Linked DNA regions of Homo sapiens. The protein of the gene in region 1 purifies or fractionates together with the protein of each later gene. This does not show direct contact. Each region holds a gene or a part of one and is shown on either strand. Other genes may lie near its edges. The genes, in order: LIPH, CEP164, FAT1, LRP5, LRRC41, RTEL1 and PTER.

The links.
Region 2: the proteins of LIPH (region 1) and CEP164 purify together in Homo sapiens (affinity purification with mass spectrometry; 3 studies listed by BioGRID and IntAct, with this or other methods). This does not show direct contact.
Region 3: the proteins of LIPH (region 1) and FAT1 purify together in Homo sapiens (affinity purification with mass spectrometry; 2 studies listed by BioGRID and IntAct, with this or other methods). This does not show direct contact.
Region 4: the proteins of LIPH (region 1) and LRP5 purify together in Homo sapiens (affinity purification with mass spectrometry; 3 studies listed by BioGRID and IntAct, with this or other methods). This does not show direct contact.
Region 5: the proteins of LIPH (region 1) and LRRC41 purify together in Homo sapiens (affinity purification with mass spectrometry; 3 studies listed by BioGRID and IntAct, with this or other methods). This does not show direct contact.
Region 6: the proteins of LIPH (region 1) and RTEL1 purify together in Homo sapiens (affinity purification with mass spectrometry; 3 studies listed by BioGRID and IntAct, with this or other methods). This does not show direct contact.
Region 7: the proteins of LIPH (region 1) and PTER purify together in Homo sapiens (affinity purification with mass spectrometry; 3 studies listed by BioGRID and IntAct, with this or other methods). This does not show direct contact.

The regions. Positions count from the first base shown.
Region 1 is NC_000003.12:185,545,663-185,549,776, forward strand, and holds part of LIPH (lipase member H isoform 1 precursor), read right to left. Parts: intron 1-4,114.
Region 2 is NC_000011.10:117,330,601-117,334,714, reverse strand, and holds part of CEP164 (centrosomal protein of 164 kDa), read right to left. Parts: intron 82-4,114; exon of another isoform or gene 1-81. UniProt on the Homo sapiens protein: Plays a role in microtubule organization and/or maintenance for the formation of primary cilia (PC), a microtubule-based structure that protrudes from the surface of epithelial cells. Plays a critical role in G2/M checkpoint and nuclear divisions.
Region 3 is NC_000004.12:186,706,338-186,710,451, reverse strand, and holds part of FAT1 (protocadherin Fat 1 isoform 1 precursor), read left to right. Parts: intron 1-606; 5' UTR 607-624; coding exon 625-3,889; intron 3,890-4,114.
Region 4 is NC_000011.10:68,420,147-68,424,260, forward strand, and holds part of LRP5 (low-density lipoprotein receptor-related protein 5 isoform 1 precursor), read left to right. Parts: intron 1-3,342; coding exon 3,343-3,551; intron 3,552-4,114. UniProt on the Homo sapiens protein: Acts as a coreceptor with members of the frizzled family of seven-transmembrane spanning receptors to transduce signal by Wnt proteins.
Region 5 is NC_000001.11:46,282,598-46,286,711, forward strand, and holds part of LRRC41 (leucine-rich repeat-containing protein 41), read right to left. Parts: intron 3,903-4,114; coding exon 2,765-3,902; intron 1-2,764. UniProt on the Homo sapiens protein: Probable substrate recognition component of an ECS (Elongin BC-CUL2/5-SOCS-box protein) E3 ubiquitin ligase complex which mediates the ubiquitination and subsequent proteasomal degradation of target proteins.
Region 6 is NC_000020.11:63,685,281-63,689,394, reverse strand, and holds part of RTEL1 (regulator of telomere elongation helicase 1), read right to left. Parts: intron 3,873-4,114; coding exon 3,798-3,872; intron 3,605-3,797; coding exon 3,523-3,604; intron 1,758-3,522; coding exon 1,625-1,757; intron 1,459-1,624; coding exon 1,345-1,458; intron 1,257-1,344; coding exon 1,216-1,256; intron 1,095-1,215; coding exon 1,009-1,094; intron 868-1,008; coding exon 790-867; intron 341-789; coding exon 263-340; intron 1-262. UniProt on the Homo sapiens protein: A probable ATP-dependent DNA helicase implicated in telomere-length regulation, DNA repair and the maintenance of genomic stability. Acts as an anti-recombinase to counteract toxic recombination and limit crossover during meiosis.
Region 7 is NC_000010.11:16,502,631-16,506,744, reverse strand, and holds part of PTER (N-acetyltaurine hydrolase), read right to left. Parts: intron 1,726-4,114; coding exon 1,585-1,725; intron 1-1,584. UniProt on the Homo sapiens protein: N-acetyltaurine hydrolase that regulates feeding by catalyzing the hydrolysis of N-acetyltaurine into taurine and acetate. N-acetyltaurine has anorexigenic and anti-obesity effects that are dependent on GFRAL receptor and GDF15.

The DNA.
Region 1 (4,114 bases):
GAGGAGTGGGAGACCACCCTGGGCAACATAGTGAGATCCCATCTCCATAAAACAAAAAAACAAAAAAACACGTCTTTGGAAACAGCATGAGTTTTGGAGTCAGACCTAGGTTTGATGTCCAACTCCACTGCCTATTAGCTATGTGACCCCTGGTAATTAATTGCCTAACCTCTCTGGGCCTCAGCTTTGCATCTGTAAAATAATCATAATAGGCCAGGCACAGTGGCTTACGCCTGTAATCCCAGCACTTTGGGAGGCTGACGCAGGCAGATCACCTGAGGTCAGGAGTTTGAGACCAGCCTGGCCTACATGGTGAAACCCCATCTCTACTAAAAATACAAAAAAAAAAAAAAATTAGCTGGGTGTGGTGGCACATGCCTGTAATCCCAGCTACTTGGGAGGCTGAGGCAGGAGGATTTCTTGAACCCAGGAGGCAGAGTTTGCAGTGAGTCGAGACCCAGCCACTGCACTCCAGGCTGGGTGACAGAGTGAGACTCTGTCTCAAAAATAAATAAATAAAAATAAATAAAAATACAAAAATTAGCCGGGTGTGGTAGCGCACACCTGTAATCCCAGCTACTCGGGAGGCTGAGGCAGGAGAATCGCTCGAACCCAGCAGGTGGCAGTTGTGGTGGGCCAGGATTGTGCCACTGCACTCTTAGCCTGGACGACAGAGTAAGACTCCGTCTCAAAAAAAAAAAAAAAAAAAATTCTAAAGCTGGGCATGGTGGTGCAGGCCTATATAGTCCCAGCTACTTGGGAGGCTGAGGCAGGAAAACCACTTGAGTCCAGGGTTCAAAGCCTGCCTGGGCAATATGGCAACACCCATCTCTTTAAAAAAAAAAAAAATTTCCCACTGGGTGCTGTGGCTCACGCCTGTAATCCCAACACTTTTGGAGGCCAAGGTAGGAGGATCACTTGAGCCCAAGAGTTCGAGACCCGCCTGGAACAATAAGGTGAGACCCTGTCTCTAGAAAAAATCAAAAAGTTAGCTGGGCGTGGTTGCACATGCTGGTGGTCCCAGCTACACTGAGCCTGTGGCAGAAGGTGGCTTGCACCCAGGAAATCAAGGCTGCAGTGAGCTGTGAGCTGCGATCACACTACTGCACTCCAGCCTGGGCAACAGAGTAAGAACTTGTCTAAAAACAAACAAAAAACAAAACAAAAAAAGCCTGTGCTGTCTCAGCTACACACTCAGCTCTGGCTTCTTCTACCTCATTTTGGAGGAATTAATTTTATTTCCCATATTTCTGACTGGAGAAAACCCTCTTCAAAGAGAGGAGACTCCTCATTCATATCCAAAGAGGCATCTGTGAAAAAAGAAGACAGAATTATGGACAGAGGCGAGGAAATTCTGAGATTCTACGATAGTCAATAAGCAAAGGTGGGAATTGTTTGAACCCGGGAGGCGGAGGTTGCAGTGAGCCGAGATCACACCACTGCACTCCAGCCTGGGTGACAGAAAGACTCCGTCTCAAAAAAAAAAAAAAGAAGGTATCTCAGACCCATCTCAGACCTTGATGAAGGTGCCTTGGACCCTTTGGTCCACTGACCTCCAAACCTACATTACAGAAGTGAAATTCTGTAGGACATGTAGAAGTGAAATTCATGTAGGACATGACAGAATTTCATGTCAATTTCACGTCCTACATGAAATTAACCTTGACGTGTAGTGCCCAGTCAGGAAGTAAAACAGCCCTGACTCATACTGCTTTTTTATCTCGAGTTTTGGTTTCTAAGGTGTGCTTGAGCTTTCTTCCCCTCCACCCCATCCCCAAACGTGACATAGATGTATATTAATAACTTCTTTAGAACAGAGGTCCACAGTCAGGTTTACTGACTTGATGCTGCCTGAAAGTATTTACTGAAGGCAGGGCACGGTGGCTCACGCCTGTAATCCCAGAACTTTGGGAGGCTGAGGAGGGTGGATTGCCTGAGTTCAGGAGTTTGAGACCAGCCTGGCCAGCCTGGCCAACATGGCGAAACCCCGTCTCTACTAAAAATACAAAAAATTAGCCGGGCATGGTGGCAGGCACCTGTAATCCCCAGTTACTTGGGAGGCTGAGGCAGGAGAATTGCTTGAATCTGGGAGGCAGAGGTTGCAATGAGCCGAGATCGCGCCACTGCACTCCAGCCTGGGCAACAAGAGCAAAACTCCATCTCCAAAAAAAAAAAAAAGAAGAAGAAAGAAAGAAAGTATTTACTGAGACCCAGATAAAGATTAACAGATACATTTTCAAGTATTCTGCATGCTTGGCAATGGATGTTACTGTCTGGGATACAAGCTCATTACACGTTGATGCCGTTGATGCCAAAATGTTCACAGTAACCTATGCTTGAGCACACTCTTATGCTTGCCTGAAGACACTGTTCTGAAGGAATTTCCAAAAGTCCAAGAAATAAAAATCTGAAGTTTTTTTAGGCCAGAAACTTTGCCTTCCTCGTATTAGAAAATGAGTTGGGGCCGGGCGCAGTGGCTCAAGCCTGTAATCCCAGCATGTTGGGAGGCCGAGGCGGGCGAATCACCAGGTCAAGAGATCGAGACCATCCTGGCCAACCTGGTGAAACCCTGTCTCTACTAAAAATACAAAAATTAGCTGGGCGTGGTGGTGGGCACCGGTAGTCCCAGCTACTTGGGAGGCTGAGGCAGGAGAATTGCTAGAACCAGGGAGGCGGAGGTTGCAATGAGCCAAGATCGCGCCACTGCACTCCAGCCTGGTGACAGAGCGAGACTCTGTCTCACATAAAAGGAAAAAAAAAACAACAAAAAAAAACTCATCCTAGGTCAAGCACGGTGGCTCACACCTGTAATCCTAGCACTTTGGGAGGCCGAGGTAGGTGGATCACCTGAGGTCAGGAGTTCGAGACCAGCCTGGCCAATATGGTGAAACCCCATCTCCACTAAAAATACAAAATTAGCTGGGTGTGGTGGCACATGCCTTTAGTCCCAGCTACTTGGGAGGCTGAGGCAGGAGAATCACTTGAACCTGGGAGGCAGAGGCTACAGTGAGCCAAGATCGTGCCACTGCACTCTAGCCTGGGCGAGACAGAGCAAGACTCCATCTCAGAAACAAAACAAAACAAAAACAAAACAAAACAAAACAAAACAAAACAAAACAAACCGCATCCTGAGCCAGGCTGTGAAAGGATTACAGTTGGACAGGGTCAAACCTGGTGAAGCATTTGTTTTGCCAGGCATGGTGGCTCACACCCGTAATCACAGCACTTTGGGAGGCCGAGGCAGGGGGATCACGAGGTCAAGAGTTCAAGACCAGCCTGGCCAAGATGGCGAAACTCCGTCTCTCCTAAAAATACAAAAATTAGCTGGGCGTGGTGGTGGGTGCCTGTAATCCCAGCTACTTGGGAGGCTGAGGCAGAGAATTGCTTGAACCCGGGAGGCAGAGGTTGCAGTGAGCCGAGATCGCACCACTGCAGTCCAGCCTGGCAACAGAGCGAGACTCCATCTCAAAAAAAAAAAAAAAGAAAATATTTGTTTCTTTTTTACCCTGGGCGGAGACAGGCAAGAAGCATATGGGCAGGATGCCCTCTTGATTGGAAGGACATGCCTGCTTTTAACCACTGGCTGTGTTTCTTTAGGATGCAACCGAGAAAATAAATGAGATGCCAGATTTTCTCATTCTCATTTCTGAATCATGTGCATAAATATGCACATTCACACCCCCTCATTCACCTTTGCCAACTTGTTAGAGAAAGATGAGTCACCACACAGGCACAGTTCCAAATCATTCTAGAGGATTGCAAATATCTGAGGAAATAATTCTGGTTTTGGCATTAAACAATTTTTTCTGGGAAAATATCTATCTAGTTTTACAGTTGCTATGGGCCAAAATATCGATAGCAGAGTAACTTTTAAAAATACTTATGTCAAGCAGTCTTAATTTAGAACAATATTTTAAAACCTATGTTTGTTTCACCACCTGCAGCTGAAAAACCCTGAGGAATTGTTAAAAATGCAGATTCTAGGCCAGGCACAATGGTATGTGCCTGTAAGTTCCAGATACAGACAGGGCGGGAAAATTTTTGAGACAGGGTCTTGTTCAGCCAGGCTGAAGTGCAGTGGCTACTCAGAGGCACAGTCATAGCTCACTGCAGC
Region 2 (4,114 bases), on another chromosome or scaffold:
CTCCCAGGTTCAAGCTAGTCTCTTGCCTCAGCTGCCCGAGTAGCTGGGATTACAGGCACCCCCACCATGCCTGGCTAATCTCTGGATTTTTAGTAGAGATTAGATTTCACCACATTGGCCAGGCTGGTCTCAAACTCCTGATCTCAGGTGATCCACCGGCCCTGGCCTCCCAAAGTGCTGGAATTACAGGCAGGAGCCACCGCACCTGGCGATATATTTAACTACTTAAAGATCAGGAAAACTCTGGGAAATCTGAATTCATGGATCATCCAAATTCAAATAAATGTTCTGCCAGAAAAAAATTAAAATATGGGTGGGTTGTATTCTACCTTCTTTCCTTACCTTATCAGGCTCTAGAAAAGATGTGGGCAAGGACAGGTCCAAAAGGCCAATGAGTTAAAGAAAAAAGGAACGTGGGAACAGAAGTCATATCTATTTGTCTGTATGTAGTAGCAGGATGGCTACTAAAGATCATCTACTCACTCGAGGAATATTTATTGGGCACCTACCACGTGCATTTATTTCTAGGCGCTAGAGATGCAATCGTGATTAAAAACAGATTCAGCTGCTGCTACTCTTGAGCTCGTCTGGGAAGGGAGGGAGACAAACCAATCAGTCACAGAGAAATGTATAATTAGAACCGAGGGAAGTGCTCTGAAGGAAATAAGCCTGATTTAGATGATGCCTACACTGAGAACTGAATGATGAGTAGGTATTCACTAGACAAAGAAAAAAAGGAAAGCGTGTTCTAACAGATGCATGCAAAAGTCCTTCAGCAGAAGGCAACACGAGGCAAGAAGCAGCACAGTTGGATAGGATGCTGGGGAGGCCAGTGGGAGCCAGGCCATGCAGACTTGCCCTTTATCATAACAGAACTAGGGCTGGGCACAGTGGCTCACACCTGCAATCTCAGCACTTTGGGAGGCCAAAGCAGGAGGATCGCTTGAGCCCAGGAGTTCAAGACCACCGTGAGCAACATAAGACGACCCTGTCTTACCCTGTACAAAAAAAATTAAAAATTAGCCAGGTATGGTGGTGTATACCTGTAGTCCCAGCTACAGGGGAGACTGAGGCGGGAGGATCACTTGAGCCCAGGTGGTCAAGGCTGCAGTGAGCCTTGATTGTGCCACCACACTCCAGGCTCAGTGACAGAGCAAGACCCTGTCTCAAAAAAGAGAGAGGAATGGAAGCCAGGAAATAGTTTTTCCAGATACACATTTTGAAAAACTACTCCAGAAGCTACTAGGAGTACACCCTAAAGCGGAGGCCAGATTGGAAAGAAGAAAATCAGGGCTGATGCAGAGAAATAAGGTAGAAAACCATGAGCTAGGCTAGGTAAGAGGCAATGGTAACCTGAGTTGGAGTGGTAACAGAGGATGAGAAGTCTAAGAATGCAGCCCTTGGGCCAAGCACTGTGGCTCACACCTGTAATAACAGGGCTTTGGGAGGCTAAAGCAGGAGGATCACTTGAAGCCAGGAGTTTGAGACTAGCTGGGTCAACATAGTGAGACCGTCTCTACAAAAAATTAAAAATATCAGCCATGCATGGTGACACACACCTGTAGTCCCAGCTACTTGGGGGGCTCAGGTGGGAGGATCCCTTGAGCCCAGGAGTTCAAGGCTACAGTGAGCTATGATAACACCACTGCACTCCAGCCTGGGTGACAGGGCAAGACCTGTCTCTAAAATAAATCAATAAATGAGAATGCAGCCCTTAGATCTGCCATGGCAAACAAATAGGACATGTCCTACTATTTTCCTCCAGGCCTAAAACTGTGAAGGACATCACTAGTCAATTATGGCACCCTAGACATGGCCTCAGAACCCTCAACATTGTTCACTACGTAGCAGTTACCAATAGATGAGATGAAATCCAGTGAGATCTACTTGCTGCCTAGCCTGAGACCTTCTGTGAGCCAGAGTTAGGAGGGGTCACCCAACTGCACTCATGCATCTCCTACCAATCTCAGAATCAGGCAAAAAAGGAGTGGCTCACACGTTTCCTCCAGGAAGCCTTCCCAGCCAATTTTATCCTCTCCTGTCAACCCAGAACCACCTTAGCACTGAGCTCATAATTTTCATGTGTTCCCAGACAGATTTCTCTCAATATTATTATTTTTTCTTTCTTTCTTTTTGAGACAGAGGAGTTTCGCTCTTGTTGCCCAGGCTGGAGTGCAATGGTGCGATCTCGGCTCACTGCAACCTCCGCCTCCTGGGTTCAAGCGATTCTCCTGCCTCAGCCTCCTGAGTAGCTGGGATTACAGGTATGTGCCACCACGCCTGGCTAATTCTGTATTTTTTTAGTGGAGATGCAGTTTCTCCATGTTGGTCAGGCTGGTCTCGACCTCCTATCCTCAGGTGATCCACCCGCCTCGGCCTCCCAAAGTGCTGGGATTACAGGCGTGAGCCACCGTGCCTGGCCAATATTACTTTTTTTATGAAAATGTGTCTTCTTACCTCTCCTGTTAAACCACAAACTTCTGAGGGCCATGTCTCCTCCTCTGGAATTTTCCAACAAAGCCTAAAATAAGCCTATGTAAGCTGTCGGAGCTCAGTTACTGCTGTAACTGCTAATATAAAACCAAGGAATAGGCCGGGTGTTGTGGCTCACACCGGTAATCCCAATACTATGGGGGACCAAGGCCTAGGATCACTTGAGCCTAGAAGCTCAAGACCAGCCTGAGCAATATAGTAAGACCCTGTCTCCACAAATATATATATATATATATATATTAGCCAGGCATGGTGGCGTGCACCTGTGGTCCCAGCTACTCGGAAGGCTGAGGCAGGAGCTATGTGATCAGATGGAAAGGAAGACAGAGTTACATAAAGAGTGTAAAGTGGGGAGGCAGAGGTGGGAGGATCACTTGAGACCAGGAGTTCGAGGCTGCAGTGAGCTATGATTGTACCACCATACTCCAGCCTGGGCAACAGAGTGAGACCCTATCTGAAAAAAAAAAAAAATACACCAGCAATCTCAGAAGCTAGGAAGACCCGCAGTAGTTTTGGTCCACCTTCCTTCCCATGCCAAAATTTTCCTCTCTGTGCTTCCAGTGACAGGCGGCATAGTGGTCAAAGTACCAGCTTTGGAGACAGAAGACCTGGATTCAAATCCCAGCTCTCTCACTTAGCAGCTGTATGACCTTAGGCAAGGTGCTTCACCTCTCTCAGCCTCAATAACTGCATGTGTATAATTAAAACAATCTTAACAAAAATCAAAAAGCCTGAAAGTAAAATGAAACAACACTTATAAAGTGCCTAGCACAGTCCCTGTATACAGAAAAGTTACACAAATTTAGCTAGTATTACAGATTCTATTTTCAATTCCATAGTTAGATAATTCTTAACTATTAGAAGGTCTAATAGTAAGCCAATAATCAGGTTCTAAAAAAATGTTCCCTGGTATCTCAAGTCTGCCTTCTGCTCATCTGGGGACACCCTAGGATTCTCTAGCTAAGGTAGGCTAAGTATTCCCAGTTCTCTTCCATTCAGTACATATCGTTTCCCAGTCCTTCAATATTGTGGCTACCTTGCCCTGTACTTTGTCAGCATAGCTAGAGTTTTGCACATCTGCACACTAACAGAGAATATACACTCACAGACATAATGAGGGTTCTCTGTATATTTATTTCTTCCACCCTGCTCCAACAATTACAAAGAAGGTTGACCACAGAAAAGATTGACTGGAGAAGGTAAAGGGGAGAAGGTGGAAGATGTCAGAGTTGATTACGCAGTGGTAATGAGCAAAAGCTTTGGAACATTCTTGGCTTTCAATCCCAGCTCTGCCTCTTACTAGCTGGACAGCCTCAGTTTTCTCATCTATAAAATGAGAGTACTAACAATATCCATCACAATGTGTTGTGAGGCTTATATGATTCAATACATGTAAAGTGCTTAAAATATACTAAGGTCTCAATAAATGTTAGACATTACATTATTATGACTGCTATTCACCTATTTAAAAGGGTTTATTCTACCTTGCTCCAAAGGACATATCCAGCACCAGGCAATATAAGTTAAGGCCATTCAGACATTAAGTAATCACTTTTTCTTTGCTTTTTTTTTGAGACAGAGTATCATTCTTGTCACCCAGGCTGGGGTGCAATGGCACGAT
Region 3 (4,114 bases), on another chromosome or scaffold:
CCTTACATTATGTAGGGAGTGAACTTAACCATTCTTATACAGAAATAATATAATTTCAGGATACATTTTGAAATGAGATTACAAGCTGTTCTTATGGAGCGCCATGTAAAACCACTGCTGGTTTTTGTTTTTTTCTGAATTAGTTGTCAGAAGCTTTGCATTCTCACAATACTGTAGGGGCATTATGTTTGCCAGCTTTTGATCATTTAATTCATTGTATGTAAGTAAATGTAAACAATGTTCATTAATTTTTAACAGTTGCTTATATTTGCCTTAACGATTTAAATATAAAAATATAACTTAGTTGTTACAGTTAGTAGCCTTTCATTTGATACTCATGAAGATTTTTGAGTCGTTTAAATATGAAAGAGAGGACCTTGTCGTTCAAAAATGAAAAGGAAGTTTTTGTTAAGCTTAATAATTCTAGACATGTTACAAGAATGTTGATACTTATATTGGAAAACATGAAAAACATCCCAAACCGTTGCATTTATTTATATTCCATGTGTATGGAAAATATTTTTTTAATGAGAAGTTTAAAACAATGTACACACTTTTGCTTGTTTTATTTCCCCAAGGTAACGATTCTGATTTCTTCTGTTTCAGATTCCCGACAGTTAAGCAATGGGGAGACATTTGGCTTTGCTCCTGCTTCTGCTCCTTCTCTTCCAACATTTTGGAGACAGTGATGGCAGCCAACGACTTGAACAGACTCCTCTGCAGTTTACACACCTCGAGTACAACGTCACCGTGCAGGAGAACTCTGCAGCTAAGACTTATGTGGGGCATCCTGTCAAGATGGGTGTTTACATTACACATCCAGCGTGGGAAGTAAGGTACAAAATTGTTTCCGGAGACAGTGAAAACCTGTTCAAAGCTGAAGAGTACATTCTCGGAGACTTTTGCTTTCTAAGAATAAGGACCAAAGGAGGAAATACAGCTATTCTTAATAGAGAAGTGAAGGATCACTACACATTGATAGTGAAAGCACTTGAAAAAAATACTAATGTGGAGGCGCGAACAAAGGTCAGGGTGCAGGTGCTGGATACAAATGACTTGAGACCGTTATTCTCACCCACCTCATACAGCGTTTCTTTACCTGAAAACACAGCTATAAGGACCAGTATCGCAAGAGTCAGCGCCACGGATGCAGACATAGGAACCAACGGGGAATTTTACTACAGTTTTAAAGATCGAACAGATATGTTTGCTATTCACCCAACCAGTGGTGTGATAGTGTTAACTGGTAGACTTGATTACCTAGAGACCAAGCTCTATGAGATGGAAATCCTCGCTGCGGACCGTGGCATGAAGTTGTATGGGAGCAGTGGCATCAGCAGCATGGCCAAGCTAACGGTGCACATCGAACAGGCCAATGAATGTGCTCCGGTGATAACAGCAGTGACATTGTCACCATCAGAACTGGACAGGGACCCAGCATATGCAATTGTGACAGTGGATGACTGCGATCAGGGTGCCAATGGTGACATAGCATCTTTAAGCATCGTGGCAGGTGACCTTCTCCAGCAGTTTAGAACAGTGAGGTCCTTTCCAGGGAGTAAGGAGTATAAAGTCAAAGCCATCGGTGGCATTGATTGGGACAGTCATCCTTTCGGCTACAATCTCACACTACAGGCTAAAGATAAAGGAACTCCGCCCCAGTTCTCTTCTGTTAAAGTCATTCACGTGACTTCTCCACAGTTCAAAGCCGGGCCAGTCAAGTTTGAAAAGGATGTTTACAGAGCAGAAATAAGTGAATTTGCTCCTCCCAACACACCTGTGGTCATGGTAAAGGCCATTCCTGCTTATTCCCATTTGAGGTATGTTTTTAAAAGTACACCTGGAAAAGCTAAATTCAGTTTAAATTACAACACTGGTCTCATTTCTATTTTAGAACCAGTTAAAAGACAGCAGGCAGCCCATTTTGAACTTGAAGTAACAACAAGTGACAGAAAAGCGTCCACCAAGGTCTTGGTGAAAGTCTTAGGTGCAAATAGCAATCCCCCTGAATTTACCCAGACAGCGTACAAAGCTGCTTTTGATGAGAACGTGCCCATTGGTACTACTGTCATGAGCCTGAGTGCCGTAGACCCTGATGAGGGTGAGAACGGGTACGTGACATACAGTATCGCAAATTTAAATCATGTGCCGTTTGCGATTGACCATTTCACTGGTGCCGTGAGTACGTCAGAAAACCTGGACTACGAACTGATGCCTCGGGTTTATACTCTGAGGATTCGTGCATCAGACTGGGGCTTGCCGTACCGCCGGGAAGTCGAAGTCCTTGCTACAATTACTCTCAATAACTTGAATGACAACACACCTTTGTTTGAGAAAATAAATTGTGAAGGGACAATTCCCAGAGATCTAGGCGTGGGAGAGCAAATAACCACTGTTTCTGCTATTGATGCAGATGAACTTCAGTTGGTACAGTATCAGATTGAAGCTGGAAATGAACTGGATTTCTTTAGTTTAAACCCCAACTCGGGGGTATTGTCATTAAAGCGATCGCTAATGGATGGCTTAGGTGCAAAGGTGTCTTTCCACAGTCTGAGAATCACAGCTACAGATGGAGAAAATTTTGCCACACCATTATATATCAACATAACAGTGGCTGCCAGTCACAAGCTGGTAAACTTGCAGTGTGAAGAGACTGGTGTTGCCAAAATGCTGGCAGAGAAGCTCCTGCAGGCAAATAAATTACACAACCAGGGAGAGGTGGAGGATATTTTCTTCGATTCTCACTCTGTCAATGCTCACATACCGCAGTTTAGAAGCACTCTTCCGACTGGTATTCAGGTAAAGGAAAACCAGCCTGTGGGTTCCAGTGTAATTTTCATGAACTCCACTGACCTTGACACTGGCTTCAATGGAAAACTGGTCTATGCTGTTTCTGGAGGAAATGAGGATAGTTGCTTCATGATTGATATGGAAACAGGAATGCTGAAAATTTTATCTCCTCTTGACCGTGAAACAACAGACAAATACACCCTGAATATTACCGTCTATGACCTTGGGATACCCCAGAAGGCTGCGTGGCGTCTTCTACATGTCGTGGTTGTCGATGCCAATGATAATCCACCCGAGTTTTTACAGGAGAGCTATTTTGTGGAAGTGAGTGAAGACAAGGAGGTACATAGTGAAATCATCCAGGTTGAAGCCACAGATAAAGACCTGGGGCCCAACGGACACGTGACGTACTCAATTGTTACAGACACAGACACATTTTCAATTGACAGCGTGACGGGTGTTGTTAACATCGCACGCCCTCTGGATCGAGAGCTGCAGCATGAGCACTCCTTAAAGATTGAGGCCAGGGACCAAGCCAGAGAAGAGCCTCAGCTGTTCTCCACTGTCGTTGTGAAAGTATCACTAGAAGATGTTAATGACAACCCACCTACATTTATTCCACCTAATTATCGTGTGAAAGTCCGAGAGGATCTTCCAGAAGGAACCGTCATCATGTGGTTAGAAGCCCACGATCCTGATTTAGGTCAGTCTGGTCAGGTGAGATACAGCCTTCTGGACCACGGAGAAGGAAACTTCGATGTGGATAAACTCAGTGGAGCAGTTAGGATCGTCCAGCAGTTGGACTTTGAGAAGAAGCAAGTGTATAATCTCACTGTGAGGGCCAAAGACAAGGGAAAGCCAGTTTCTCTGTCTTCTACTTGCTATGTTGAAGTTGAGGTGGTTGATGTGAATGAGAACCTGCACCCACCCGTGTTTTCCAGCTTTGTGGAAAAGGGGACAGTGAAAGAAGATGCACCTGTTGGTTCATTGGTAATGACGGTGTCGGCTCATGATGAGGACGCCAGAAGAGATGGGGAGATCCGATACTCCATTAGAGATGGCTCTGGCGTTGGTGTTTTCAAAATAGGTGAAGAGACAGGTAAATATGTTTTTATTGCTCTCATTTGATGCCCTTTTCCATTTTTTTTTTTTTTTTAACCATCTGCCCTGTGGCAGCTTCTTCAAAATTCCCTGTTGCTCTTTGGGCTCGGTATAGAAGTGCGTGTGAATATTTTTTTTGGCCCGGCTGCTGTATTGTAGATGTGTTTATTCGTAGTAAGCCATGAAGATGGAAACAAAAGGGCCTGAGTGATTTAAGTGGCGT
Region 4 (4,114 bases), on another chromosome or scaffold:
CATCACTGCCATTCATCTCCAGACTACTTCACCTTCTCGGCAGATGTCCGAAACTGTCCGCATTGAACACACTCCTCATCTCCCTCTGACAGCCACCATTCTACTTTGTATCTCTCTCTGCCTTCTCTAGGTACCTCATGTAAGTGGAATTATACCAATATTTGCCCTTGTGTGACTGGCTTCTTTCATGTGACATGGTGTCCTCAAGGTTCATCTGTGTTATAGCCTGTGTCAGAATTTCCTTCCTTAAAGCCTGAATAATAACCCGTTGTAAAGGCTGGGCGCGGTGGCTCACACCCTCTAATCCCAGCATTTTGGGAGTCCGAGGTGGGCAGATCACTTGAGGTCAGGAGTTTGAGACCAGCCTGGCCAACATAGTGAAACCCTGGCTCTACTAAAAGTACAAAATTAGCTGGGTGTGGTGGCGCGCACCTGTAATCCCAGTTACTCAGGAGGCTGAGGCAGGAGAATCGCTTGTACCCGGGAGGCAGAGGTTGCAGTGAACCAAGATTGTGCCTCTGCAGTCCAGCCTGGGTAACAGAGTGAGACTTCCTGTCTCAAAAAAAAAAAAAATCATCGGATGGATGGACGGACCACTTCTTGTTATTTATCCATCCACGGGTGCTAGGTTTCTTCCACCTTTGGTTGTCGTGAATAAGGCCACTATGAACATTTCCTTCCGTGGTGAAGGTTTTGTACTAGTGAGGAAAAGGCGTGTTTGTGGTGTTGCATAGGATTCTGGTAAGAAAGTTTGCACTAACCATAAGTATTTGTACTACATTAAAATGAAAGCTCAGGGGCCGGGCGCGGTGGCTCACGCCTGTAATCCCAGCACTTTGGGAGGCCAGGGCGGGCGGATCATGAGGTCAGGAGATCAAGACCATCCTGGCCAACATGGTGAAACCCCGTCTCTACTAAAAATACCAAAAAACTAGCCAGGTGTGGTGGCGGGCACCTGTAGTCCCAGCTACTTGGGAGGCTGAGGCAGGAGAATGGCGTGAACCCGGGAGGCGGAGCTTGCGGTGAGCCGAGATCGCTTCACTGCACTCGAGCCTGGGCAACAGAGCAAGACTCCGTCTCACGCAAAACTCTGTCTCACGCAAGACTCCGTCTCAAAAAAAAAAAGAGTTCAGGGTTTATGAAACTGGCCAGCCGCGTAAAGTTTGCTGTGTTGTTTTTGTGCCCGGGAGGAGTGTGGCCAGGGTGTCACGTCACACAGTACACGTTTCTCAGATGGTGGTTCTCCAGACTGCTGTCCCAAAGTCTGTTTTTGCATCTGGTTCCCACAGACCCACCCTCCACGGTGAGCCTGATTTTGGCCAGGGTAGCTGGAATCTTGCTTGTCTTTCAGCCCGGCAGCTGTACCAGTCCAGGGTCCACAGCTAGTGGCTTTTAGGAAGGAATTTGTTCAGTTGGCTTTGACACATGGCCCCCTAGGGTCCACAGCTCTGTAGTGATGTGGATGTTGTTATCTACAAAGACACATGATCCTTCGTGTCCAGATGAAAGTGATGATGTCTTTGCAGCTGCCCAGCAAGGCTGTGTGTGTGTGTGTGTGTGTGTGTGTGTGTGTGTGTGGTGTGTGTGTGGTGTGTGTGTGTGTATGGGGGAGGGAGGCACCCTTTCCATCTGGGGGTGTGTGTGTGTGGGGTGTGTGTGTGTGTGTGCGCGTGTGTGTGGTGTGTGGTGTGTGTGTGTGTATGGGGGAGGCACCCTTTCCATCTGGGTCCAAGAGACTGGGCCTGGGGAAGACGCTTCTTTTTATCTACTTAGAGACTTTGTTTTATTTGTATTTTTTTGAGACAGGGTCTCACTCTGTCACCCAGGCTGGGGTATGGTGATATGAGCATAGCTCACTGCAGCCTCGGCCTCCCAGGCTGAAGCGATCCTCCCACCTCAGCCTTCTGAATAGCTGGGACTGTAGGCGTGCGTCACCATACTGAGCTATTGTTTTTTTTGTTTGGTTGGTTTAATTTTTTTTGATACAGATGGAGTCTTGCTATGTTGCCCAGACTAGTCTCAAACTCCTGAACTCAAGTGATTCTCCCACCTCAGTTTCCCGACATTCTGGGATCACAGGTGTGAGCCACTGCTGTCTCCCTGTTTTATTAACTGCTGAAAGACCTAGATAAAGAAAGTCTGAAAAGACTTACTATCAGAGCACCATCCTAAGATGATTCCCTCTGACTCAATGGAGAGGGAGGGGAGCTTTTCCTTCAGGCCTGGGTGGCAGGAGCCCAGGTGCTCCAGGCCCCATTTGCCCCAGGCCAAATCACTCGGGAACTTGGATGCAGCTGTCTTTCAGGGTAACCCAAAGGAACCAGATCCCCGCAGGCAGTAGGCTTCTGGGCTGTCCTCTCCTCCTACGTCAGCTCAGTAAGAGCCCTTCGAAGGGATGCTGTGTCGGAGGCCCCAAAAGCCCAGGCTCATCCCTGAGATGCACAGGGTGGGCTGGGCTTAGGCAGCGCTCGAGCATCTCCTGGACGGTGACCCCAGAGAGTGTGGAGACGGAGAGTCCTTGAGAGTCACTGAGAGACGTGGCTGCCCTGCCTTCCCAAGAGGGGCTCTGAGTCATTCCCCACACTCACCTGCCCCTACCCACCCTCACCTGGCCCCCAGCCTCACCTACCCCCACATCTGTACCGATCCCTTTACCCGCACCTTCCCTACCCACCCTCACCTCCCCTGTACCTTCACCTCCCCCACTCACCCGCCCCTGCACCCTCACCTGTCCCCCACCTTCACCTAACCCCCACCCTCACCTGCCCTCCCCTCACCTGGCCTCCTTCCGTTGGGGAAGGGGTTGTAAGGGGCGGCCCCCAAACTGTCTGTCCTGGTGCCCTGCAGAGAAAACAGTACGTGAGGGCCGCAGTCCAAAAGCTTGAGTCCTGGAAGGTGGAGGAGACAGGGATGTGTTGGGAAGGGCCCCATGGTCTTGGATCCCTTCTCGACTGTCAATGGGGCCTTCATGGGAGCGCCAGTCTAGTGATGCACAGCTGGGTGCCCGGCGGGTGGCTGAGGAGGCCTAAAGTCCGAGGCGGCAAGAGCTCTTCCAGAGGCTGTTGTCCTAATCGCTCTGGCATACTCAGGCGGGCACGTAGTTAGGAGCTGATTGGAGAGGAGAGACCCCCACACCAATACTGGGATTTGACTTTCAGGCTAAACTTGAGAAGTGTGGCCTCTGCTGTCCTGCCAGAGCTCTCCAGCCAGTGCCCAGGGCTCTCCAGCCAGTGCCCGGGGGTCTCCACCAGTGCCCGGGGGTCTCCGCCAGTGCCAGGGGTCTCCGCCAGTGCCCAGGGGTCTCCGCCAGTGCTCAGGAGTCTTGGTTTCTTTGTCTTACAGCCCTTTGTTTTGACCTCTCTGAGCCAAGGCCAAAACCCAGACAGGCAGCCCCACGACCTCAGCATCGACATCTACAGCCGGACACTGTTCTGGACGTGCGAGGCCACCAATACCATCAACGTCCACAGGCTGAGCGGGGAAGCCATGGGGGTGGTGCTGCGTGGGGACCGCGACAAGCCCAGGGCCATCGTCGTCAACGCGGAGCGAGGGTAGGAGGCCAACGGGTGGGTGGGGGTGCTGCCCGTCCAGGCGTGCCCGCCGTGTCTTCTGCCGAATGCCAGCCTCTCACAGGCTGGGGAGACTTTCCACCCTGGGGATCCAATGGGTGGCTTTCCAGGGTCCCAAAAGCAAACACAGGCTCTTTCACAGCCCCTCCAGGAAAGCAGAAAGCCCCAAGGGCTGGAAGGGAAGGGGGAGCTCTGCTGAGAGGTTACAAGGCAGCGCTGGCCGACGGGAGTTGCAGTTGATAGGTTTTGTATCATCCTTGTTAAACTTGAACCCTGTGCAGAAATCCCTTCCACGGCATGGGGGCTGCCTGTTGACTCGCTCCTGTTCCACCACAGGGAGCTCCTGGGCTTCTTCCTCCCAGAGGCCCCCGACGCTCCCACCTGTTGGTCGTCAGAGCTTCTGGTTGGTGGGAAGGCACCCAGGACCTTGAGGTCTCCAGAGAGAAAAGCCAGGGAAAGAGGGAGACCGAAACCCATGTGACATGAAACTCAGGCTCCAAACTGAGCACGGGAACGTTTGGGGACAGGAGCGCGATGGCCTTCCT
Region 5 (4,114 bases), on another chromosome or scaffold:
TAAAGAACATAAAGGGGACAGGCTAAAATTTAGGAAGAATGATTGTGGCAGAGGCAACTTGGCATATGTAGAGGCCTGAAGGAGAACAAAAAAATTTCATAATGGCTGGTGTGAGAGTGTGAAGGGGGGAAGCATTCAAGATACAACTATAGGCCAGGTGTGGTGGCTCACACCTATATAATCCCAGCACTTTGGGAGGCTGAGGTAGGCAGATCACCTGAGGTCGGGAGCCCAAGACCAGCCTGGCCAACATAGTGAAACCCCGTCTCTACTAAAAATACAAAAATTAGCTGGGCATGGTGGCATGTGCCTGTAATCCCAGCTACTGAGTCAGTAGAATTGCTTGGACCCGAGAGGCGGAGGTTGCAGTAAGCCAAGATTGCACCATTGCACTCCAGCCTGGGTGACAACAGAGACTCCCTGTCAAAAAAAAAAAAAAAAAAGATACAACTATAGAGATAACCAGGAGTAAGAATATGAATGACCACTAAGTAAAATTAAGCCATTGAAGGGTGTTTGCATAAATGAATGACAGGGTCATTTTTGACTGATTTTTTTAAAGAATCAAGACTGCATTTTTCAAAGGATGCTTGGGCTGCAGTGCAGATAATGGATTTGTATGGCAAGAGTAAGGAGTCCGGAGGAACTACTGAAATTAGTTCAGGTAGTGGGTAATGGTAGCTTGAATTAAGGATGTGGAGATAGAGAAATAAATGTATTTAACAAATTGTAAAGATAGGGCTGGGCTTAATGGCTCATGACTATAATCTCAGCACTGTAGGAGGCCGAGGTTGGTGGATCACTTGAGGCCAAGAGTTCGAGACCAGCCCGGCCTATATGGGGAAACCCTGTCCTTACTAAAAATATAAAAATGCATTCAAGTTGGATGTAATGAGTTGGGTGGGGTATTGTGGGTTATGAAGTTGTCATGTCTACTAGCTGGATAAATGGGTCTGGAAGTTCAAGAGAAAGATCTGGGGTAATGTCACATAATGGGGAGTCTTTAGCATAGTTGGCCTTTGAAACCACAGGAATGGATGAAATTGTCCAAGAAGCGTGCATAAAGTGGGAAAGCTCTGAGGAACTCTGAATAAACAGAGGAGGAGAAAACTTTTTTTTTTTTTTTGAGATGGAGTCTCACTCTGTTGCCCAGGTTAAAGTGCAGTAGTGCAGTGGCACGATCTCCAGTCACTGAGTAGCTGGGATTACAGGCGCCCACCATCACGCCTGGCTAATTTTTGTATTTTTAGTAGAGATGGGGTTTCACCATCTTGGCCAGGCTGGTCTTGAACTCCTGACCTCGTGATCCACCCACCTTGACCTCCCAAAGTGCTGGGATTACGGGCGTGAGCCACTGCGCCCGGCCAAGAAAACATTTTTTAAGGTAGTGAAAAAAAATTTAATGAACAGCAGTAAATCCTGCCAAGAAGAGTTACTGAAAAGTATACATTGGATCTAGTAACAAGGAGGACCCTGATGACATAGGTCCTTGCCAGTGCAGTGGTAGGGGTATAAGAGGCTGGAAGGGGCTGTGAGTAAGAGAAGTGGAAACAGTACAGATAACTAAGGTTGTGAAGAACAGGAGATAACAGTTTATTAATATGGCATAGAGGGAGGTGGTGGTGGCAGTTTTTGATGGAGACCTGTTAAAATGCTGATAGGAGAGAGACGGTGGAAAGGAGAGTAGCATAGTTGTTTGAAAGCATGAATCTGCAGTCTGGTTGCCTGGGTTTTGAATCCTAGCTCTATAATTGCTAGGTTATCCTGAGGAAGTCACTTGCCCTCATAGGGTTGTGAGGATTGTTAGATCAAATTATCAAGAATACTTAAAATATGCCAGACACATACTAAGCAGTATATAAAAATTAGTTTGAGAAACAAGCTTCCCTAAGAAGGTAGAATGCTTGTTTCTCAAACTGGTAATTTTTATATACTTTGTTGTGAAGCTCTATGCATCTAGAGCACAGGTGGGAGAATTAGCCTTAGAAAGGATGGTGGTCTCTTCTATTCTGGTAAAGAAGGATGAGTGCAGATGGAGAGTTTATAGGCTGCTTAGCAAGCTAAAGAAACTCATGTGTGATGGCTTCTATTTTCTCTGTGAAGTAGGTGAGGTCATCCCTGAGAAGGGAAAAGGAGAGTTTGGAAGTGGTAGGAATGGGAGCTGATGTTGCAAGCACAGTGAAGGTTCATACGAGGTTAGTGATCATATAGTAACACTGATTTGCATAGTTGTATGATTTGTCTCTAGCAGTGCTCAGCAACCTAGGCGGATTGCTGGATTTAGCCAGAGTTGAGGTTTTGCTAGCTGGTCACAAGCAGGAGGGAAATGAGGACTGAGGACTGCTTTGCAGGTTGTTGGTCTGATAAGAAATTGTGTCCCACACCTTGTCTGGACAGCTACTCTGATATGACTGGTGAGGTGGTGAGGTCAAACTCTAGCCCTGCCTGAGCATGCATATACTATACTGCTCCCACCTGCCCTTGGACTGCCTTCCATATCTAAAATGTATTCATTCTTCAGATTCCAGCTGGCTTGTCTCACTGCCCCTCAGGAACCCCTGCTTTCAACAACTAATCAAGTGTATAGACTTTATGTTCCTCTCTTCTAGCAATGACAGTCTCCCCTGCTATGAGGCATACAAGCCTTCCTCTCTAACCTCCTGATCATACCCCCAATTTGCCCCTCCCACCTCCCTAGAATTAGGCACACAGCTGGTGCTGCTAGGCAATCTAAGCCCAATCCCTGCCACTCCAGGGTGCTCACCATTGTAGGAGAGTGTGAGGCTCTCCAGTGACACCCAGGAGCTCAGCAGGTGGCATAGTGTCAGGGCTGCCTCTGTGGAGAGTGGAACTGTGAATAGCTCCAAGGTGGAGATGCTGCGGAATCTTTGTGAAGCTTCCAGTGCTGGAAGCCCCAGGCAGCTGGGATCTGATCCATCCAAAGCTCCACAAGCCACTTCCCCAATCTCCATCTCTTCGCCATCCTCCTTCTCGCCAGCCACAATAAAAACGAAGTCATACAGGTCTTCAGACTCTGCACCAGGCCCCTGACGGGTGCGAGCACCCTTCTTCCCTGCAGCTCGCTTGAAACGCTTTAGGGGCTTAGGCTGTGGGGCTGAGCTAGCTGGTGCCCGTTTGTATGAGGATGTAGAAGAAGAGGCAGAGGAGGTGGCTGCTGGAGCAGAAGGTGACCGCTTGGTGCCAGGAGCCTCATGGGAGGTGGCTGGGGGGTGCAGCTCCCTCTTAAGGTCTGTTCCGCCTGCTGTCAGGCTCTCCTGTGTGCTCCGGCGTGTTACCCGAGTGGCAGGTGCAGCTCTGGGCATCTGCTTGGCTTCACTCTTACGCCGGCTGGCCATCAGGGCTGCAGCACATCGCTCAGCAGCATCCCGGCGGGGCCGACGTGAGCCCAATAAGAGGGACCCTTCATCTCGGGATGGGGCCCGGCCTCGGGAGGCCTCTCCACAGAGGCGGCAGGGTGGGCCACCAGGCCCTGGTTGCCAGAAGCCAGCACTCATGGTGAGAATAAGGATGAAAAGGGCTGACTCAGGCACAGGCCAGGAGTATAGCGACACTTGACTGACAGCCCCATGGTGAATGAGCTGATGCAACAGCTGCCGAAGTGACTGCTGAGCAGCCACATCAGAGAACAGCAGGTGGCGGAACTTGAGAGTGTGCAGGGAGCTGGCCAGGGTCTCCAGAACCCTGCGGTTGGGCTCAGCCACCAGCTCGGTTGCACCCTGCAGCATGTTACAGATGGTGAGCTGTCGGACATGGCGGGAGCTGTGCAGAAGAGGTGAGAACCGCTGATCACAAAGACGCCTGTCAGAAGACACATCAATGGTCCCACGTAGAACATGGGAAAAAAAGGCCTCCATAAACTTGGCTCGCCAACATGTCACACTCTGAAACGCAGAAAACATGCCAGACAGCCATGATATATCCATGAAACTGTCCAAATTTCCCTCTCTTCCAATAGCACACTATTTACTGAGTCAGGCAACACTACAAATTCATTTAATCTTCACATCTCTGAGGTATGTATTATTATTAGCCCTATTTTACAGGTAAAACCGAGGCACAAAGAGGTGGCCACACAGGTAAGTGGTTGGATTAT
Region 6 (4,114 bases), on another chromosome or scaffold:
GAGGAAGCTCCATCTGTGGGTCAGGACCCCACTTGGGGTCCACAGCTCCCAGACGCCACCTCCAACTCTTGTGGCCAGGAAACTCCCATCCTGCCTGCCCAGGCCCAGAGCAGGACACGCTCCCAGCAGGGCCAGCAGTCGCTCTCGTGGGACCCAAGGAGGGGACCGGGCAGCCCCCAGGGCCCAGAGTCTGCTGGGGAGCCATAAGCACCCACCAGGGAACAGGCAACCAGGTCAGGGCAGAGGGCCCTGGAGAGCTCACCTTGCCCCGGCAGACCGCCAGGAAGGTGGCGCCGGTGGACCCAGGGGCGGCAACCCTTGCATAGTAAGCACTGATGGTCTGGAAGGAAAGTTGGTGAGGCTGAGCCTGGAGCCCCCCCCCAGCCCCTTCCTCCCCCATGAGGGAGACCCAGGTCTCATGCTCCAAGATGAAGGATCGTCCTAGCCAGGAAGGCCAATCGGGTTCTGGAAGCTTCTTCCTGGCACGGATCCCAGGCTGACCCCACGCCTGCTCAGTGCTTCCCAGAAAACACGGGGAACCCCAGGGCCAGGGTGGCCGACTAGGGCTACTCAGACAGGAGGGCCACTGTTACCACACCCACCCGGTGCTGGGGGCTTTGTAAGATAAGAGGCAACACTCAGGGCCAGGAAGGAAACGCAGGAGCCCTGAAGAGGCAGCGGGAGCCGCCGGAGCCCATGGTCAGGGCCAGTGGTCAGCCTTGGGGAAGCTGTGAGAGGCAGGGGAGGCACGAGGGGGCAGCAGGCCCAGAGCCCCGGCCAAGTGCCGACCTCGGAGAAGCTGCCTTTGCTCCTGGGCTCCACAAACAGCGGCTTCAGCGCCTCCATCTTCCTGGCCAAGTCGCGGGCCTGTGGGAGGAAGAGGCAGGGACACGGCAGCCCTGGTCACGCCGCCGATCCGATGAGGGCAAGCAGGAGCTGTGACCACTGCCTGCTTCATGCTCCAGCCCTGCCCTCACCCACCCCGCCCAGAACACAGGGGAGACGCACCCGCCAGAACTCCAGGCTCTTCTCCATGACAGGATAGGAAGGGAAGAAGATCAGGAGCCCATAGGGCACCACGCGGGCGATGTTGCCTGGAAGTGCAGGGGCCGGGGTCAAGGCAGGGGCAGGATGTCTGCAGGGTTCCCTACCAGCTCTTGGGAGCAGGGGTCCAGGATCCAGGATGGGCACAGCTGGGGCATTCAGGGCACTCACCCAGAGCCTTCCCCAGGGAGGATAAGCACTCCTCGGAAAACCTAGAGCCGGAGAGGCCACTGCTCAGGACCTCAGGCCTCAGTGCTCCCCCACCTCCCACCCCAGCAGGGCCCAGGGACAGGCCCTCACCGTCTGTCAAACGCGGAGCTCAACTGGGCTCCATCGGGGCCTCTGGGGACGACCCCCACCCAGATCTGGTGCTTGTCGATGATGTGTGGGTTCTCCAGGCAGACTGGGAAAGGGCTGAGCGTGGCCAGAGGGAGCAGACAGTGGGGAAGTGCACCAGCACCCCTTTAGCCCTCGAGGCCCGAGACCCCCAGCACCCGGCTCATGGGGACCCCCACCACTTCCACCCCGCTGATGTCAGAGGTGTCACCGGTGCTCAGGCCCTGGCAGGGGTGGCCCGTACATCTGCATCTCCAGAGCAAAGGAGGACACCGGGGCCAGCGTGCCGCTGGTAAGGATGAGGGAGCGGACGCCCTGGCGGACCAGCTCGTGCATGCTGTGGCCGGGACTGAAGCACCAGTAGCTCAGCACCTTCCCTGTGGGGCGGGGGGCGGCAGAGGGCACAGAGTGTGAGGACGGGACTGGGGGCCTGACCACCTGCCTCTCTGCCCATCACCCTCTCCACCCACTGGCATCAAGCAAGCGAGCCGCGGGCAGCCACCCAGGCCCACTGTGCAGAAGTCAGAACAAAGGAGGCTGCCCTGAGTGTGAGCCTGCCAGCTTGGGGCCCCTCTGGGGGACAGGGGGTCCTGGGAGTAGGAGGCAGACCCCAGGCAGAGGCTGGGGACACCTGCAGAGAGGTCAGCCCACTCCAACCCTAAACTTCTGCAGAAACTGTGACATGCGGCTCAGGGCAAGAAGCCCACCCCGCCAAGAGCACACGGGAAGGAAGCGCCGGCATCCCGACATTCCACGGCCGCGTGCAGAAGACGGGGTGCGAGTTCCCAGCTCTGCCTGGAAGCAGGACACGTGCACAAGCCTCTGAGTGGCGTCAGCAGTGAACAAGGGCGCCAGCTCAAAGGAAGTTCCTAGAAGGGCTTGACCGACTGGCCACGGCGGCCGTGGCCTGGGGAGGAGGCTGAGTCTGGATGCCGGATGCCGGGAATTCAACACGGCACAAGCAGAACGACTCTGACTGCGATTCGGAGTCAGCAGGGACGAGGCACGTTTCCTTCCTGGGGCTGAGTGTGCCCTGCAATGGGGGAACTTCCCCACCCCCTCCTCCAGGAGCTCATTTCCTACAAACGCCCAGTGCAGGGAGTGGCTGCTTCTGAGAAGTCAAGTGACATCAGAGGTCAATGGAACAAACAGATTCCAGGCCCTTGGAATCTGTGCACCGGCTGCCTCAGGCACGCACTGCCTCCCGCAACCCCAACTGCGTGAGGGGCGCCGGCCTCCCCCCGGGATGGACGCTTCCTGCTGGGAGAGGCCTTGCTGCAGGACCATCACCGAGCGGGGGTCAAGCCACGCCACCCTGACGCCCTCCCAGCCCTTCCCTTCCGGCTCGGCCAGGCAGACCCAACCACAGCAACCGCACAAGGGCTGCTTCAGCCAGGGCCACGTCATGCCACCATGGGTCGGACAGCAGCTGAGAAAGAATGTTCCAGAGAGGGACGAACCAAGCCCAGAGGCAAGGCCCCACTGGAGCACAAGGCAGGGGCAGCAGCTCCCGCAGCTGCAGCCGTGAAGCCCCACCCTGGACACCACGCAGTGGGGGTGGGGCCAGATACACCCCAAGAACCACAGGGCTCCGGACACGGAGCCGAGGGCACACTCACAGACCCCATCCACACAGCGTCCCCGGCAGCACCGACTCGAAGACGCCACGGAGCACAGGAAGCCAAGAAGGCACGTGGGGCCTCGGGGCTGAGCGCACCAGGGGCTTCGGACAACAGGGCCAGCCGGGCCCCCTTCAGATGTGACCCTGAGGCTTGGCCCGGCCAGGCGCTGCGTGGAGGCAGCAGGCAGAGCCGTGCCTCACTGTGGAGGCTCTGTGCTGACGGCCTCGGCATAAACGAGCGTGTCCCAGCAGGGAGGCCTGGCTGGGCTGTGGCTCTGCCACCACCAACCAGGTGACTCTGGGCAGGTCACGGTGCCATCAGGCCATCTCCTACGTCTCTCAGTAACTCCAATCTTCAGAGGGACAGTGAGGAGAATGCTCTGGATTGGCCTGGATATGGAGAAGGTGGCCAGGCCCATGGGGGCAGGAGATCCACGGCTGGGCATGTGCCTAGCCTGTGGCATGGTGGTGCCGGGCACTGCACCCGGGCGGGCGGGGAGCGTGTGGGCCCAGGTCTGTACCTCGCTTTCTGGCTGCAGTGGTGCTCCAGGCATCAGACCGCTGAGCCGTCCTCCGGTGACCAGCATCAGGATGGATGTGCACCTGGAGGGGACAGGACCAGGAGTGTGGAGGCCCCGCCCATGTCCTGGGGGCAGCCCCTTACCTTTTAGGACCAGAAGACCCCCAGCCCCACCTGCCTCCTGGAGGTGGCCCCCACCTTATAGGACTGTAAGGCCCCCAGCCCTGCCGGGGAACAAGGGCTGCCCTCCACCTGCCTCCTGGAGGTGGCCCCTACCTTATAGGACTGTAAGGCCCCCAGCCCTGCTGGGGAACCAGGGCTGCCCTCGGAGGGGTCCACACTGAACACAATCTGAAAGGCAGAGGAAGTGCAGCCCCGTCAGGAGCCTGAGGCCACCCGACTTTCTGCAGCATCAGCCGCATACACAGAAGGTCACAGGACACCCAGGGGTCATCGGTTCACCGGCCCCTGCCATCATGCAGCCCCAGGCCAATGGACAGGAGCTGGCACCTGCCTGACCCTTTCTCCTCCCTGCAGGGACCCCCGGTGAGCTCTGTGTTCCCCCAACATAGGCCATCTCCATGCACTGAAAA
Region 7 (4,114 bases), on another chromosome or scaffold:
TCACAGAGACACTAGAGGACATGTGGCCATGTGTCCTCAGTCTCCTGTTTCCCTCACTAAGACTTCTGTTTGCATTCACCCCATCGCTGTGTCATGCCCTCTCATTTCCATGGAGAAAGCATCCTTTCAACCGACTTTCTATTTGTTCCCCAGATTCCATCTATTTGTTGCCTTAGGAACCTTGCTCTATATTTCTTATCTATCCAGAGTTTTTAAAGTCAACATCTATTGAACACTTCCATATTCTGCACCAGACACTCAGACAAAAACTTGGAAAACATTATTTCATGTCAATTCTATAGTAACCCTGTGGAATGGGCACCACTTCCCTGGACTCATTCTCTCTGGCTCTGTCTCTGCTTTTGCTCTTAAGTCACATAAACATTGCTCAACTCTTACTAGAAGCTTCCCTTGATCCTTTATTGACTTGTAACTCCAGACCCATCTCCTTGCTTCCCTCCACTGCCACGCTTCTTGAAAGAGTCACCTCAACATCCTCTCTCCTCTTCCTCACGGCCCACCCATTTCTCAAGCCTTTTCCACTGAGATTGCACTCTGTTTATAAAATGTGAGCCTCCTAATTGTGAAATCCAATGGATGCTTTTCAGTCTTTATTTCCCTTGATATTTGTCACTTATTACCGGCATTCAAGCCCTTCTGCCCTGAGACTTCCTCTCTACTGACTTCCATAAGAATATATATCTCTCATGTTATCACTTTGAAAACTTCTCCTCGACCTTTCCTTGAGAAACGGTTCCTACTCCATTCCTTAAATGTCTCTGTCCCCAGGTCTCTGTCCTCATCTTCTTCTCTGAGTGATGTCATTCATTCCCACGGTTCAACTATCACATACAAACCATATCTTAGGGCTTCACTGGGTAGCAACACTTAGATATTCCCAAACGAAAGCCTTCCTTGTCAATCTCCAATTTATTTCTCCTCCTAGGTATTCTAACTTGGTTCATTCAATCTTCTTATCACCATGTGACCAAGACCAAACTAGGTAGCTATCATTGACGCCTAAAATTTTCTACTTGATTACAAAGAATGACTCCTACAATTATCTGCCAGCATCACACATTATACAGTTTTGGAAGGTTGCATTCATTTTACATAATATTTAGTCTTTAGACCTTATACTTTTAGCATTTAACTTGAAATCACCTTTTTAATGAAAACTTTTGATAAAGCATTTCAAATATTACTTGTAGGAAGTTATGGCTTTAGTGTGGTCAACCTGAGAGAGGAACAGCTTATTTCATTAGGGGTAAATAGAGGAAAATGTCTTTTGTTCTCTGATTTTCATGGCAGGGGTTGGGTATTATCTGTGTTTCCTGTCAGCTGCCCATCTGCACTGAACTTCTAAGGCTCTGCTAAGCTTTAGCCTACTTAGGATGACTCATTTTCTCCTTAAAATAATATAGAGAGATTTTTCTCCCTGAAACAGCATAGATATATTTTTCTCTGCAAGTCTGTGGTTCGGCCTGCTTACTGTTTTCTGAATCTTTGCTAATACTTCCCTAGATATGACAATCAAAAAGGGCTAGGGAAAGGGAATGCTATGAGAGGCTTTACCATATTTACCTTCTAATTCTTTTGTTATCATCAGGCATGTCAATATCTGGGCCGAGTTGGTAATGAAGTAGTTCAGTACCAAAGAGATCATATTCCAAGTAGCAGCCAAGTTGAGCAAACTCCAAGAGCTCTTTCTTATCAAGAATAGTCCTAGAAACAATGCGACAGATGAACTGTTATTATGAAGAGCCCATTTTCCACATGTACATACTAGAAGTTTTAAGCACACAATGTACAAGAACAAGAACATAGTTGAAGTCGAGTAACAGACACTTCTGAAATGGCTCTTAATGATGTGAGTATAAAACAGTAAGTTCAATTTGTTACTAGAAATAACAGAACTTACTCATCTAAAAAGGAGTTTTCCCCTCTAAAGTACTTGGGTACTACAGACTTAGTTTAATGATGCTTCCATTATTCCAGAGCAAGTTTGGAATTCTCCCTCAGAACTGTGTTCAGAAGATGCCCCCACACTATTTTGAGAATCCTTAATGGGGTAAATTTTCATCCTCTAAAGACTGCTATGAACTGTGAAAACTATTAAAGGAAATCTGGCCTCAGGTCTGGTGAATTAGGTGAGTAATGCTAATCTGGGTAACACATGAGGCTTTGCCTTGTGGTAGCAGGGTGATTTTCTTGTGAAGATTGTAAAGTGGTTCTAAAATTAATTCTAAAGCCTTTAAAGAATATCATTCCCACATTTTCTTGAAGGCACAATACTCATACAGATATTTATGCTCTGGAGTGCTTATTTTTTAAATAAAATTTATTATTTTATGATAAATTTTATGGATATCTTCTCATTTCAATAGATGTCATATAAAGAATGTAACTATTTTAGGATGTAAGATTATGTAAATGAAAGGGAAAGGAGAGAAATGTAAGACAAGTACAGGCTACAGACAAGCGTAGAGTACAGAGCAAGAGTAGATTATATCAAGAAATTTGCATTATAACAAGTAAAAAGAGATGCACTAAGGTAACCCCAAAATACCACTGTAGAGATCCAATCACACAGAGAGCTAAGAAGGAATAAAAACATCCTAGCAGAAAACAATATGGGAAAAAAAAAGTGAAGGAAAAATATACCCCATTAGACATTTCATGAAGGGAAGGAAGACATTGCATGAAGGGAATGAAGGAAAAATATACCCCATTAGACATTGCATGAAAGGAATGAAGGACCTAGAGAAATGTAAGGGATCGTTTCGGATCGGAAATTGGCGTGGAGATGAGTTGGGAACATTAGACAGTCATTGTCTTATTGGCTTTTTATCCATGCTGATATTTCTATTACTTTGGCAACTCCACGATGTGAGGATTAAAGCACTACTTTGTGGCAGGGTGCGGTGGCTCAATCCCAGCAGTTTGTGAGGCCGAGGTGGGTGAATCACTTGAGGTCAGGTGTTCCAGACCAGTCTAGCCAACATAGTGAAACCACGTCTCTACTAAAAATACAAAAATGGCTGGGTGTGGTGGCTCACACCTGTAATCCCAGCACTTTGGGAGGCTGAGGTGGGTGGATCACCTGAGGTCAGGAGTTCAAGACCAGCTTGGCCAACATGGCGAAACCCCATCTCTACTAAAAATACGAAAAATTAGCTGGGCATAGTGGTGGGTGCCTGTAATCCCAGCTACTTGGGAGGCTGAGGCAAGAGAATTGCTTGAACCTGGGAGACGGAGGTTGCAGTGAGCTGAGATCACACTATTGCACTCCAGCCTGGGCAACAGAGTGAGACTCTGTCTCAAAAGACAAAAACAAAAACAAAACAAAAATTAGCTGGGGGTGGTGGCAGGCACCTGTAATCCCAGCTACTCGGGAGGCTGAGGCATGAGAATCACTTGAAACCAGGAAGTGGAGGTTGCAGTGAGCTGAGATCGTGCCATTGCATTCCAGCCTGGGTGACAGAGCAAGACTCCATCTCAAAAAACAAAAAGCACTAATATGTGGCTGGGTGTGGTGGCTCACGTCTGTAATCCTAGCACTTTGAGAGGACAAGGTGGGTGGATCATTTGAGGCTAGGAGTTTGAGACCAGCCTGGCCAACATGGTGAAAACCCATCTCTACTAAAAATACAAAAAAAAAAAAAAAAAAAAAAAAAAAGCACTATCATGTGTCCATGAATCTACTTCTAAGAGGTCAGAAGTATTTTCAGAGATTTTTTTTTTTTTTTTTTTTTTGAGACAGAGTCTCCCTCTGTCGCCCAGGCTGGAGTGCAGTGGCGTGATCTCGGCTCAATGCAACCTCCACCTCTCGGGTTCAAGTGATTCTCTTGCTTCAGCCTCCCGAGTAGCTGGGACTACAGGTGTGTGCCACTGCTCCCGGCTAATTGTTGTATTTTTAGTAAAGACGGGGTTTTGCCATGTTGGCCAGGCTGGTCTTGAACTCCTGACCTCAGGTGATCCACCTGTTTCAGCCTCCCAAAGTCCTGGGATTACAGGTGTGAGCCACCGCACCTGATCAAAGCTTTTCTTATAAACCACAGGAGAACCAATTAAGCCTCCCTGTGCCACGGGTGCGGGAAGTTTCTCCTTTCCT